Linked DNA regions of Homo sapiens. The protein of the gene in region 1 purifies or fractionates together with the protein of each later gene. This does not show direct contact. Each region holds a gene or a part of one and is shown on either strand. Other genes may lie near its edges. The genes, in order: OR7A5, UBL7 and UBE4B.

What was found.
Region 2: the proteins of OR7A5 (region 1) and UBL7 purify together in Homo sapiens (affinity purification with mass spectrometry; one large-scale study listed by BioGRID and IntAct). This does not show direct contact.
Region 3: the proteins of OR7A5 (region 1) and UBE4B purify together in Homo sapiens (affinity purification with mass spectrometry; one large-scale study listed by BioGRID and IntAct). This does not show direct contact.

Annotation. Positions count from the first base shown.
Region 1 is NC_000019.10:14,832,257-14,836,413, reverse strand, and holds the start of OR7A5 (olfactory receptor 7A5), read left to right. Parts: upstream 1-1,228; 5' UTR 1,229-1,340; intron 1,341-2,321; exon of another isoform or gene 2,322-2,437; intron 2,438-3,102; exon of another isoform or gene 3,103-3,263; intron 3,264-4,157.
Region 2 is NC_000015.10:74,445,376-74,448,372, reverse strand, and holds the end of UBL7 (ubiquitin-like protein 7), read left to right. Parts: intron 1-2,145; coding exon 2,146-2,283; 3' UTR 2,284-2,396; downstream 2,397-2,997.
Region 3 is NC_000001.11:10,102,353-10,106,007, forward strand, and holds part of UBE4B (ubiquitin conjugation factor E4 B), read left to right. Parts: intron 1-595; coding exon 596-740; intron 741-3,163; coding exon 3,164-3,392; intron 3,393-3,655. UniProt on the Homo sapiens protein: Ubiquitin-protein ligase that probably functions as an E3 ligase in conjunction with specific E1 and E2 ligases. May also function as an E4 ligase mediating the assembly of polyubiquitin chains on substrates ubiquitinated by another E3 ubiquitin ligase.

The DNA.
Region 1 (4,157 bases):
CTGCCTTAGCCTCCCAAAGTGCTGGGATTACAAGTGTGAGCCACCACATGCAGCCTCATTCCTGTTTTTAAACTACTGGCCTCAAGCATGAGAACTGAAAACATCATGAAGGAGTTTCAACCATTCATCCCTTTCTTGGTTTATAATGTTGAGCAGATCACTGAATCTTTCTGAGCCCCATTACTGCATACGTAGAATGATGCTCATGACAGTACCGACCACATAAAATAAACATTTATAAACATTAGATAAAATAATCCTTATAAGGTGCCATTCTCAGGACAATGTGCATAAAAGGGTCTAAATATATCTCTTGTAATTGGTACACATTTTATCAATGAAGAACTAAAAGACAGTTCTTAATTTGTCTGACAAGCATTAAATTACAAATTGTTTTGGTGAAAACATCATGAAGCCAAGGAGTACAGCCAAGCCATGATTTATATCAAAGGAACACAGTACTCCCTCTAGTTGAAGAATGAGATGGAAATTTTCAGATGTTGGGCCAGGCACAGTGGCTCACGCCTGTAATCCCAGCACTTTGGGAGGCCAAGGCGGGTGGATGACCTGAGGTCAGGAGTTCGAGACCAGCCTGGCCAACATGACAAAACCCCTTCTCTACTAAAAATATAAAAATTAGCTGGGCATGGGGGTGAGCACCTGTAGTTCCAGCTACTCGGGAGGCTGAGGCAGAAGAATCACTTGAACCCAGGAGGCGGAGGTTGCAGTGAGCTGAGATCACACCACTGCACTCCAGCCTGGGTGACACAGTGAGACTCCGTCTCAAAAAAAAAAGAGAAATTTTCTTATGGTATCAGAGGCTGTATTCCCACAATAAGTCGATGCTTTGGAGATTTAAGGGGAGTAGGCAAGATGGGTTTCTCAGTCTTAGATGTGAAGAAAACTTTGTCTCAGGATTGGGACAGTTGTTACAAAGTTAGACTTCTGGAAGAAAGGAGAGTTCATGTTGAAAGAGTAAGAAAGACTGGTTCATCCAGTCTCTTGGGAACAGAGAATCTGCAGGATTTTTTTTCTTTCTGTGCAAAACAATGTCCCACAGGGACATAATGTACTCAGGGTTTCAAATAACAAGAAGAAATGTGCCTATTGAGCAGATGTGGGAAGCTATAAATATTTCATCTGCTGTTGTCCCTCAGGCACCCCTGGGTTGAATGGAATATCATTGTTTCTTTTGAAGTCCTAAGTCTAGCTCAGAGACAGATGCTTGACTCTTTCCTGCTGCCTAGTCTGCTGAGCAGAGCTTCAGTCTCCACCATCAATCATCCAGTGAGGAATTTGCACTTACACAAGGAACTCTTCCTCGGAGAGATCCCCTCCTGGTGAGTTGGAGAGCCCAGTGGGAACTGCAGGAAAACAATAGATGGAATAGATGCAGAGAATATTTACCTGAGATCACCTGAGAGCCAGTCCAGCCTAGCCCAGAGCCAAGATATTGCTGCGGTTATTTGCTTGGTTGATTAATTAACTAAGTAATGTCTCGTTTTATGATGCAAAAAAAGAAAAGTGAACACTGAACTAGGCAATGCAAGGGTGACGACTATTGACATTTAGTGAAGGTCACAGAAGCCCAATTAGAAGGAATAGGAGGTGTAAAATGATTTTTGTAAAAGTACAACATACATCTTTGTAATTAAGGGGAGTAGAGAAATCGTGTATTGGCTGTGGAGGGATATACAGTCATGTAAAGACATTTCCTTTTTACTTTTAAAATGGAGCATATTTCAGTTTGATTCTATGCCCGTGAGAAAAATCCAGATGAACGGATTGCTTGCAAATACCATTTTGCAACAGCAGTTCATAATGCGTATATTTTGCAGGATTTTCTCTTACGCTAGGTATTCAGATAATACAAAATATTTAATAGGTGAGAGACTATGTACTAATGAGCTGTACTTGCATTTATTTCCTCACTTGCGTGGCTGAATATATTTGTGTGTTGTTTAGGCCTGTGATTTGATGCTTCTAAACAACTCACAGTGTATAGGATAGACTTTATCAAAGAGAGTGATCTAGCCCAGAATATCAATAGTGCTGAGATTGAGAAACACTGTGGCGAGGAATATCTGCTGGCTTCCTGGTTTTTGGAGTTTTGTTGTTTGTTTGTTTTTTCTTTGAGACAGAGCCTCACTCTGTCGTGCAAGCCTCTGTCCATGCTACTACTGGAATGCAGTAGCATGATCTCAGCTCACTGCTGCCTCAACCTCCTTGGCTCCGGTGATCCTCCCACCTCAGTCTCCCAAGTAGCTGGAACTACTGGTGTGCACCACCATGCTAGGCTAATTTTTGTATTTCTTTTGTAGAGATGGAGTTTCACCACGTTGTCCAGGCTGGTCTCGAACTCCTGGGCTCAAGCAATTTACTTGCCTCAGCCTCCCAAAGTGCTAGGATTGCAGACGTGTGCCACCACGCCCAGCCTGTATGTGTTTTTAATATTTTATCTGTCTGGAGATTGTTTCCACAAGACATTATGACACTTATTTCTGTCACCAAAATTAGAGTACCCGTTTGCCATCTGTTTAAAAATTCCAACACAAATCTATGACAGCTGAGAAAGTTCCCCACTCCATCCCCGCTCAGGCTGATGGACGTGAGATTTCTTACTGTTTTCTTAAAATATTACTGACTTTGAGCAAATATTCATATATTTGATCAAGATCTTGATTGCCTTATGTTTACTATATGCCCATTTTTATACAGTTACCAGCGTTTAAAATTATTTTTTTCAATGATTCTTTTTCAGTTGACTTTTGGGGAAATTTATTAGCCATAAAAAGTTTAAAATATTCTTTAGTTAAATATATACCTATCATCTTACTTCTGCAATTATTGCCTTAGTTAAGGTGATTTGCCCACCCACAGATTTCATATGTAGTTTCCCTGTTTTCATGGAAAAGGCATTGTTTACTTTTTTTTTGAGACGGAGTCTCGCCCTGTCAACCAGGATGGAATGCAGTGGTGCGATCTTGGCTCACTGCAACCTTCGCTTCCTGGATCCAAGCGATTCTCCCACCTCAGCCTCCTGAGTAGCTTGGACTGCAGGCAAGTGCCACCATACCCATCTAATTTTTGTATTTTTGGTAGAGATGGCGTTTCGCCATATTGCCCAGGCTGGTCTTGAACTCCCGACCTCAAGTGATCCACCCACCTGGACCTTCCAAACTGCTGGGATTACAGGCATGAGCCACCGTACCTGGCCGATATTGAAGTTTTTAATTCCTCTGACTTTGTGTAAGATGTGTGAGGTAGGTGACCAATTTTATTTATTCCAGACAAATAGCTGTTTATGACAGCATTTATTTAAATATCCAATCCTTTCTAACTAAATTGAAATACAAGCTTGCTGTATATTAAATGCCCATGTATACTGAGAACAAAGTCCTGATTCATTCAGCAAATAATAACTGAGCATCTGCTCTGTGCAAGAGTTTTTTATGAACAGTGTATGCCATATTCTTTTATATCTAGATTTTTGCCAATTTATTAATTTATGTTGATATGATTAAATTATTATTATAGCATGTCAGTTAATTTTCAATACTTCAACAATTTTATTCACTACAGTTGATTATATTTAACCTGGTTTTATTCTCCTGCCATTCTTTCTAATTTTATAATTCTTTTTTTAATAATGCATACATCGTCACATCTTTTTATGAAAATATGAAGGTAGCCAGGCACTGTGGCTCAGGCCTGTAATCCCAACACTTTGGGAGGCCGAGGTGGGTGGATCACGGGGTCAGGAGATCGAGACCATCCTGGCCAACATGGTGAAACCCCGACTCTATTAAAAATACAAAAATTAGCCAGGTGTTGTGGCTCATGACTGTAATCCCAGCTACTTGGGAGGTTGAGGCAGGAGAATCGCTTGAACCCAGGAGGCGGAGGTTGCCAGTCAGCCGAGATCGCGCCACTGCACTCCAGCCTGGTGACAGAGCAAGGCTCCATTAAAAAAAAAAAAGAAAAGAAAAAAGAAAGAAAGAGAGAGAGAAGGAAGGAAGGGAGGGAGGGAGGGAAGGAGGGAAAAAAATACATAAGTGAACATCCATGGTAACATCCCTGCTCATTTTGACCTTGTGCTATAATGGTGAAAATACAGTAGAATTAAATAAAGGTGCATGATGCAATGTCATAAGGTG
Region 2 (2,997 bases), on another chromosome or scaffold:
CTAGGAACAGCTGGAGCATGGCAGTGGGACAGGTGCAGAGTGTTCCTAGCAAGGGCACACTCTCAGACCATACACAGTGGTCACTAGGCTTCTCCTGCCCCTAGTGACCATGGCCTGACTCCCTAGACCACCTGGCTTAGATAATCATGGCCATTTCATTCATTCATTCAGTGATCATTGACTGAGCATGTGTATACTAGGCCTGAGTCCAGATGCTGGGCTAGTGGCAAGCTGGTTCTCATCCCTGCCATGGAGGGGCACCAGGCAGGCACTGAGCTGGGGAGCAACAAGGCAAGAAACCCAGCTGCTTGAAGTAAGGGCCTAGGTCAGACAAAACTTTTCTGAGAGAGGGGTATTTAAGCTGATTGTCAGAAGAATTAGTTAGAAGTTAGCTAGCCAGGGAAGGGGGTTTGAGGTAGGAAGGGGCTGATTTCCAGGTGAAGACAGCTACCTGTTTGTGCACATGTGTGGAGGTATATGTGACATACTCAAAACTACAAGGCTAGGATGCAGTGTCCAGTGTAGAAGATCCGCAGATGGGGCCAGAGAAAGAGCAGGAGCCTACGAGAGGGGCTTGCATGCCAACCTGCGGAGATTAGACTTGATGACTTGATGTAGCAGTCACCAGGGATCCCTGGGAGGCATTGATTGATTGATTGATTGATTGAGACAGGGTGTCACTCTGTCACCCAGGCTGGAGTACAGTGGTGTGATCACAACTTACTGTAGCCTCAACTTCCTGGGCTCAGGTGATCCTCCCACCTCAGCCTCCCGGGTAGCTGGGACTACAGGTATGCACCACCATGCCTGGCTAATTTTTTGTATTTTTTGTAGAGATGGGGGGGTCTCCCTATGTTGCCCAGCCTGGTCTTGAACTCTTGGGCTCAAGCGATTCACCCACCTTAGCCTCCCAGAGTTCTGGGATTACAGGTGTGAGCCACCACACCTGGCCCATGGGAGGCTTTAAGGAGGAGAAAGGTCACCCTAGCAGCTAAGTGGAATACCTGAGGGGCCAGCATTGTAGTTCACAGCTCCATGCATGAGCAGTTTGGTTCACGTCTGTTTTCCTCTATTCCACATAGTAAGCCTATGGGTAGAGCATCATCCCTGGAACTTGTCTGGGGTCATAAGGCCATGAAGTCGTAACGATAGGGTTCAAGCCTGTGTGGTTTTCACTGTTCCATGTGGTCCTTGTAGACAGTGAGGGAACAGAAGCAGGATTCGTGAACAACTTGTCTTCTCCATTCTTGCATCTCCCCTGTTGCTAGATGCCTGTTTACTTTATTCCCTAGCTCAGAAGCTTTCACTGGTTCCACCTGGCCTGTAAAATGAATTCAAATTGATCTGTGTGCATTTTTTTTAAGCCCTCCATGTTCTCATCACTGCCTGCCTCTTTGACTTTGCTTTTCTTCCCCTTTGCATTGCCTTCTTCCCACATGTGAACACGTTGTTTTCCCTAAATTGTGCTCATCCCTGCTGTCATGAAATAGAGATATTAATGAAGCTATGAAAGTACTAGAAGAAAATATGGGTGAATTTCTTCAAATCCTTATAGTAGGGAAGGGCTTTCTTGGCTGAAACTCAGTATCCAGGAGCCATTAAATAAAAGTTATGCATTTTGGGTTTGTAAAAGCGAAAAATTTAAAACATCTCTTACAGTCCACAAATAGATATACCTACTATATACCACAAAAATTTAAGACATTTAAAAAAAGGTGAAAATTTCTGCGTGGCAAACCAAACCAAACAAAAAACCGAAGCAAAGTCCAAAGGCTAACAAACTGGGAAAAAAATCTGTAACACTCATCACATAAAGAGCAAAATCTTGCTGTTGTGTGTGTACACATAGCAAGAGAAAGAAAGTAATTTAGCCTCTTGGAATTCAGACAGTGAATAATTTGTACATTCTCTTTTGATCCTTATGCCAAGAATTTCCTTTTTTTATTGTAAAACTTTGGATTTGTTCTCTTAACCCTCAAGCCTATCTTTTAGTCTTCCTAGAAGCACCGTGTTCTGTGGAACTCAGCATCAGCAGCTTTGCTGAGGACTCCCCCATCTTCCTTTCCTTCCCCGGAAAGCACAGACCTAAGTGAGTCTTCACTGGATCCCAGCTAACAGCTTCTGCCCATTCCTATCTTTCCACAGAGCCAGTGGCAGCCCCAGCTGCAGCAGCTACGTGACATGGGCATCCAGGACGATGAGCTGAGCCTGCGGGCCCTGCAGGCCACCGGTGGGGACATCCAAGCAGCCCTGGAGCTCATCTTTGCTGGAGGAGCCCCATGAACTCCCTGCTTCCCCTGAACCCCCAGCAAGTTGCAGAGGCTACTGCCCTTGGGAGGCACTCATGAAGGTGCCTCCATCTCTCCCTTCCCCAATATACCTGATGGTCAACTCTCCTGCTTTGTCCAGTTCTTGACCTTTCTGGCTGATCTGAGTTGGTGGAGGCAGTGGGGCAAACAAGGTGTGCTGGTCTTGATGCTGTGGCATCAAAGCAGGGCTGGCCCCTAGTTCTGGGCCCTGGATGGAGGATGTTAGACCCTACATCATGGGATGCTGTGAGATACCCATGTTAACTTCTGGGAGAAGTTTCCAGCCGTAGCCCCCAGACTCTCTGGGGCTTTGGAGTTTGGGAGCCTCAGGATGTGCCGAAGTCTAGGCAGAGCTATCACCCAATCTTCAGGGTGGCTGCTGGATTACAGCTGTGCCCAGAAGAGGCTTATGCTTCCGAGATGTCCAGTCTATGGAGTGGCTGGGTGGACTTTCAGGGGAAGCACATGGAGGCAGCTTGCCTTCCACATTTCTCTCTCTCTCAATGGCTTCCACAGATTTCTTTGTCCACCCCACCAGTCTATTCTCACCAAGCATTTTTTGATGCTTGTTCTGTAATGATTCCAGAATCCAGGCCTCAGAGCTTCGCCAGGAGGTAGGGCCCTCCTTGTCCTGAAGGCATAAATACAAGAGCAGTTAAATAGCAATACTAAAAAACAACACCAACAT
Region 3 (3,655 bases), on another chromosome or scaffold:
CATATTTTTCCTTGGTGACTTTTGATAATGACTTTGCTCTTTTTTTTTTTTTTTTTTTTTTTTTTTTTTTTTTTTTGAGACAGGGCCTCACTCTGTTGCCCAGGCTGGAGTGCAATGGCGTGATCTTGGTTCACCACAACCTCCGCCTCCTGGGTTCAAGCGATTCTCCTGCCTCAGCCTCCCAAGTAGCTCCGAGTAGCCAGGCCCGCAACCGCGCCTGGCTAATTTTTGTATTTTTAGTAGAGACAGGGTTTCACCATGTTGGCCAGGCTGGTCTTGAGCTCCTGACCTCAGGTGATCCACTGGCCTCGGCCTTCCAGAATGCTGGGATTACAGGTGTGAGCCACCACGCCCGGCCATCTTTGCTCTTTTATGCTCCCCATAGATTGTATTGTAAGCTCATGAGACTTAGATGTTGTAACTTTGATGTTATAGGAATAGGCTTACTTTTCCCCTAATCAGTGGGTGAATGGTTTCATGCATTTTTAAAATATCATCACTAATAATGAATTAAATCAGAATAACGTATTCCTATTGAAACACCTAACTCATACCTCTTATTTGAAATTAACCTGCAAATCTTCTTCTTCACCAGGAGCCTTCCTCGGGCCCTGAAGTGTCTGAAGAGCAGGCCTTACAGCTGGTCTGTAAGATCTTCCGTGTCTCTTGGAAGGACCGGGACAGAGATGTCATCTTTCTTTCTTCTCTTTCTGCACAGTTTAAGCAGAACCCAAAAGAAGGTAGGAATCTAGCTCAGCAGTCTTACTGCAGAGTACTCGACAAGAAAATAAGATGTGAGATCTTTGCCCTCTGTTATCCACATTCACTCCATCTTGCTCTTGGGTTGTATTTTTGATGACAGGGATACTTCTTGATGAGGACACAATTGTTTAGCCACTTTCTTCCCTTTCCACTGATCTTATCGATAACTTATTTTTCATTTCCATGATTTCTATAATACTATGTAAATAGGTTAATGGTCTCCATTTTCTCAGGGTTGAAGTTTTTCTCTTTGTAGTAAGAAGGTGCTTAGAGCATTACCTCCTCTTTATTTATTTATTTATTTATTTATTTATTTATTTATTTATTTATTTATTTTGAGATGGAATCTCACCCTATCACCAGGCTGGAGTGCAGTGGCATGATCTCAGCTGACTGCAACTTCTGCCTCCCGAGTTCAAGTGATTCTTCTGCCTCGGCCACTGGAGTAGCTGGGACTACAGGCGTGCACCACCACGCCCAGCTAATTTTTGTAGTTTTTTTTGTTTGTTTTGTTTTTGTTTTTTTTTTTTTTTTTGAGACAGAGTCTTGCTCTGGCACCAGGCTGGAGTGCAGTGGCGCAGTCTTGGCTCACTGCAACTCCCACCTCCTGGGTTCAAGCAATTCTCCAGCCTCAGCCTCCCGAGTTGGGATTACAGGCATGCGCCACCACACCCAGCTAATTCTTGTATTTTTAGTAGAGACAGGGTTTCACCATGTTGGCCAGGACGGTCTCGATCTCCTGATCTCGTGATCCGCCCGCCTTGGCCTCCCAAAGTGCTGGGATTACAGGCATGAGCCACCGTGCCTGGCCTCATTTTTGTAGTTTTAGTAGAGACAGGATTTCACCATGTTGGCCAGGATGGTCTCGATCTCTTGACCTCGTGATCTGCCTGCCTCGGCCTCCCAAAGTGCTGGGATTACAGGCTTGAGCCACCGAGCCTGGCCTTACCTCCTCTTATGAAGTATAGATATAGTGGGTGGTCTCCAGGGATCCTGAGAGAAGTGTTCTGTATGAGCTATACCTGCTTTAAGTGCCTATGAAGCCATGTATAGACGGTGGAATTGGTCTATTTGGTTAAATTGCTTAGCAAGATAGAACATAATGACATTTTGCTGTGTTTCTGATATTCCACTTTAAGAGGCCAAGCTTGTAACAAAATAATAAAACTCTTAGCAAGATATCAGCATCATAGGGCACTATCCTTTTTCTTTACAGTAGTCATTTGGAACGCAGAAGAGGTATGGGAGGTGTGCTGGAGTGGTTTTTTTGGCCTATCACTGGAATGTAACTTCCCTCATGGTAGGGATTTTTGTCTGTTTTACTCATTGATGTATCCCTAGAAGGATATCTTGCACAAAATAGTCCCTCAATAGATAGATTTTAAATGGATGCGTGAATATCAAGGAGATCACCTTTCTCTTTTCTATGCTGCCTATCTTCTGAGGAGGGAAAAAAAAAGTCCTTTGTATTTCTGGAGGATAGATAAGACTATTTCTGATTTTACTTATTAACTCTGCTAATGGAGCAGACCATGTATTTGAAACTCTGCTACTTGTTATTCTTATTATAAATCTTAAGATTCTCTGTCTTACACATGTAAGTGGCAAATCTGTCTTACACATGTAAGTGGCAATTTTAAATAACCAAATCAGATAAAATTTCCATGAGTTAAAACTTTTGTTAAAACAAGTGTCTTACACATGTTAAGTGGCAACTCTGTCTTACACATGTAAGTGGCAATTTTAAATAACCAAATCAGATAAAATTTCCATGAGTTAAAACTTTTGTTTAGTGGTATTTAAAATGTATCTAAAGACCAACAGTAAATCAACTGGGAGCTGCAAAGAATAAGAAGGAAGCTAGAATGTAGCATTTGCTCCTGAAAGCCACATGGTGACTAGATGTTGGACCCTTCATAAAATCTTTTGAACCTTGGACTTAATAGTTTTATTACTATCTATAAAACATATCTAGACTAAGAAATATTAACCCAGTTGCATTTGTAGTATAATAAAGTAACCTCTATAGTTGGGAGTAGCTTCTTTTTACAATTAATATACATCAGCGGTAACTCTCAATGACTGTACCCCAACTTTCTTTTTAATAAACTTTTAATTTTGGAATAGTTTCAGTTAGTGCAGGGAGTTCCTATATATACTTTACCCAGTTTCCCCTGACGTTAATATCTTATATAACCATGGTACATTTGTCAAAACTAAGAAATTACTACTAACTAAACACAAGGCTTTATTTAGGTTTTCCACTAATATCCTTTTACCATTCCAGAATCTAATCCAGGATACTGCATCGAACCATTTGGGGTCAGCTGGCTTATTCAAGGGCTGTGTAACCTGTGTTCGAACTGTGTGTAACCTGTTCTTTGTTCTGCCTTTCCAACAGTATTCTCCGATTTTAAGGACTTGATTGGCCAGATTTTAATGGAAGTGCTAATGATGTCCACTCAGACCAGAGATGAAAACCCATTTGCCAGTCTGACAGCCACATCACAGCCAATTGCTGCAGCAGCACGGTCACCAGACAGAAATCTCTTGCTAAACACTGGCTCCAATCCAGGAACAAGCCCCATGTTCTGCAGCGTGGCTTCCTTTGGTGCCAGCTCTTTGTCTAGGTCAGTGTGGTTCTCTTTGCACATCTTACTGGTAGTAAAATAACTGTGAACTACGTAGGAGAAGGGAATGTTTGTTGACAGTGTTAATCAGTGTCATACAGGGTATGGCATATATCATATTTGGGGAGGTGGATTTAGTCATTGGAAGTGGAATTCTCTTTTCTAGATTATTATTTTTTGGCTCTCTATGGTTAAGATATTGCTAGATGAAATTTTAGAAGCAGTTGGCTGTGTATACTACATCATTCTTCGAATGGGGACTT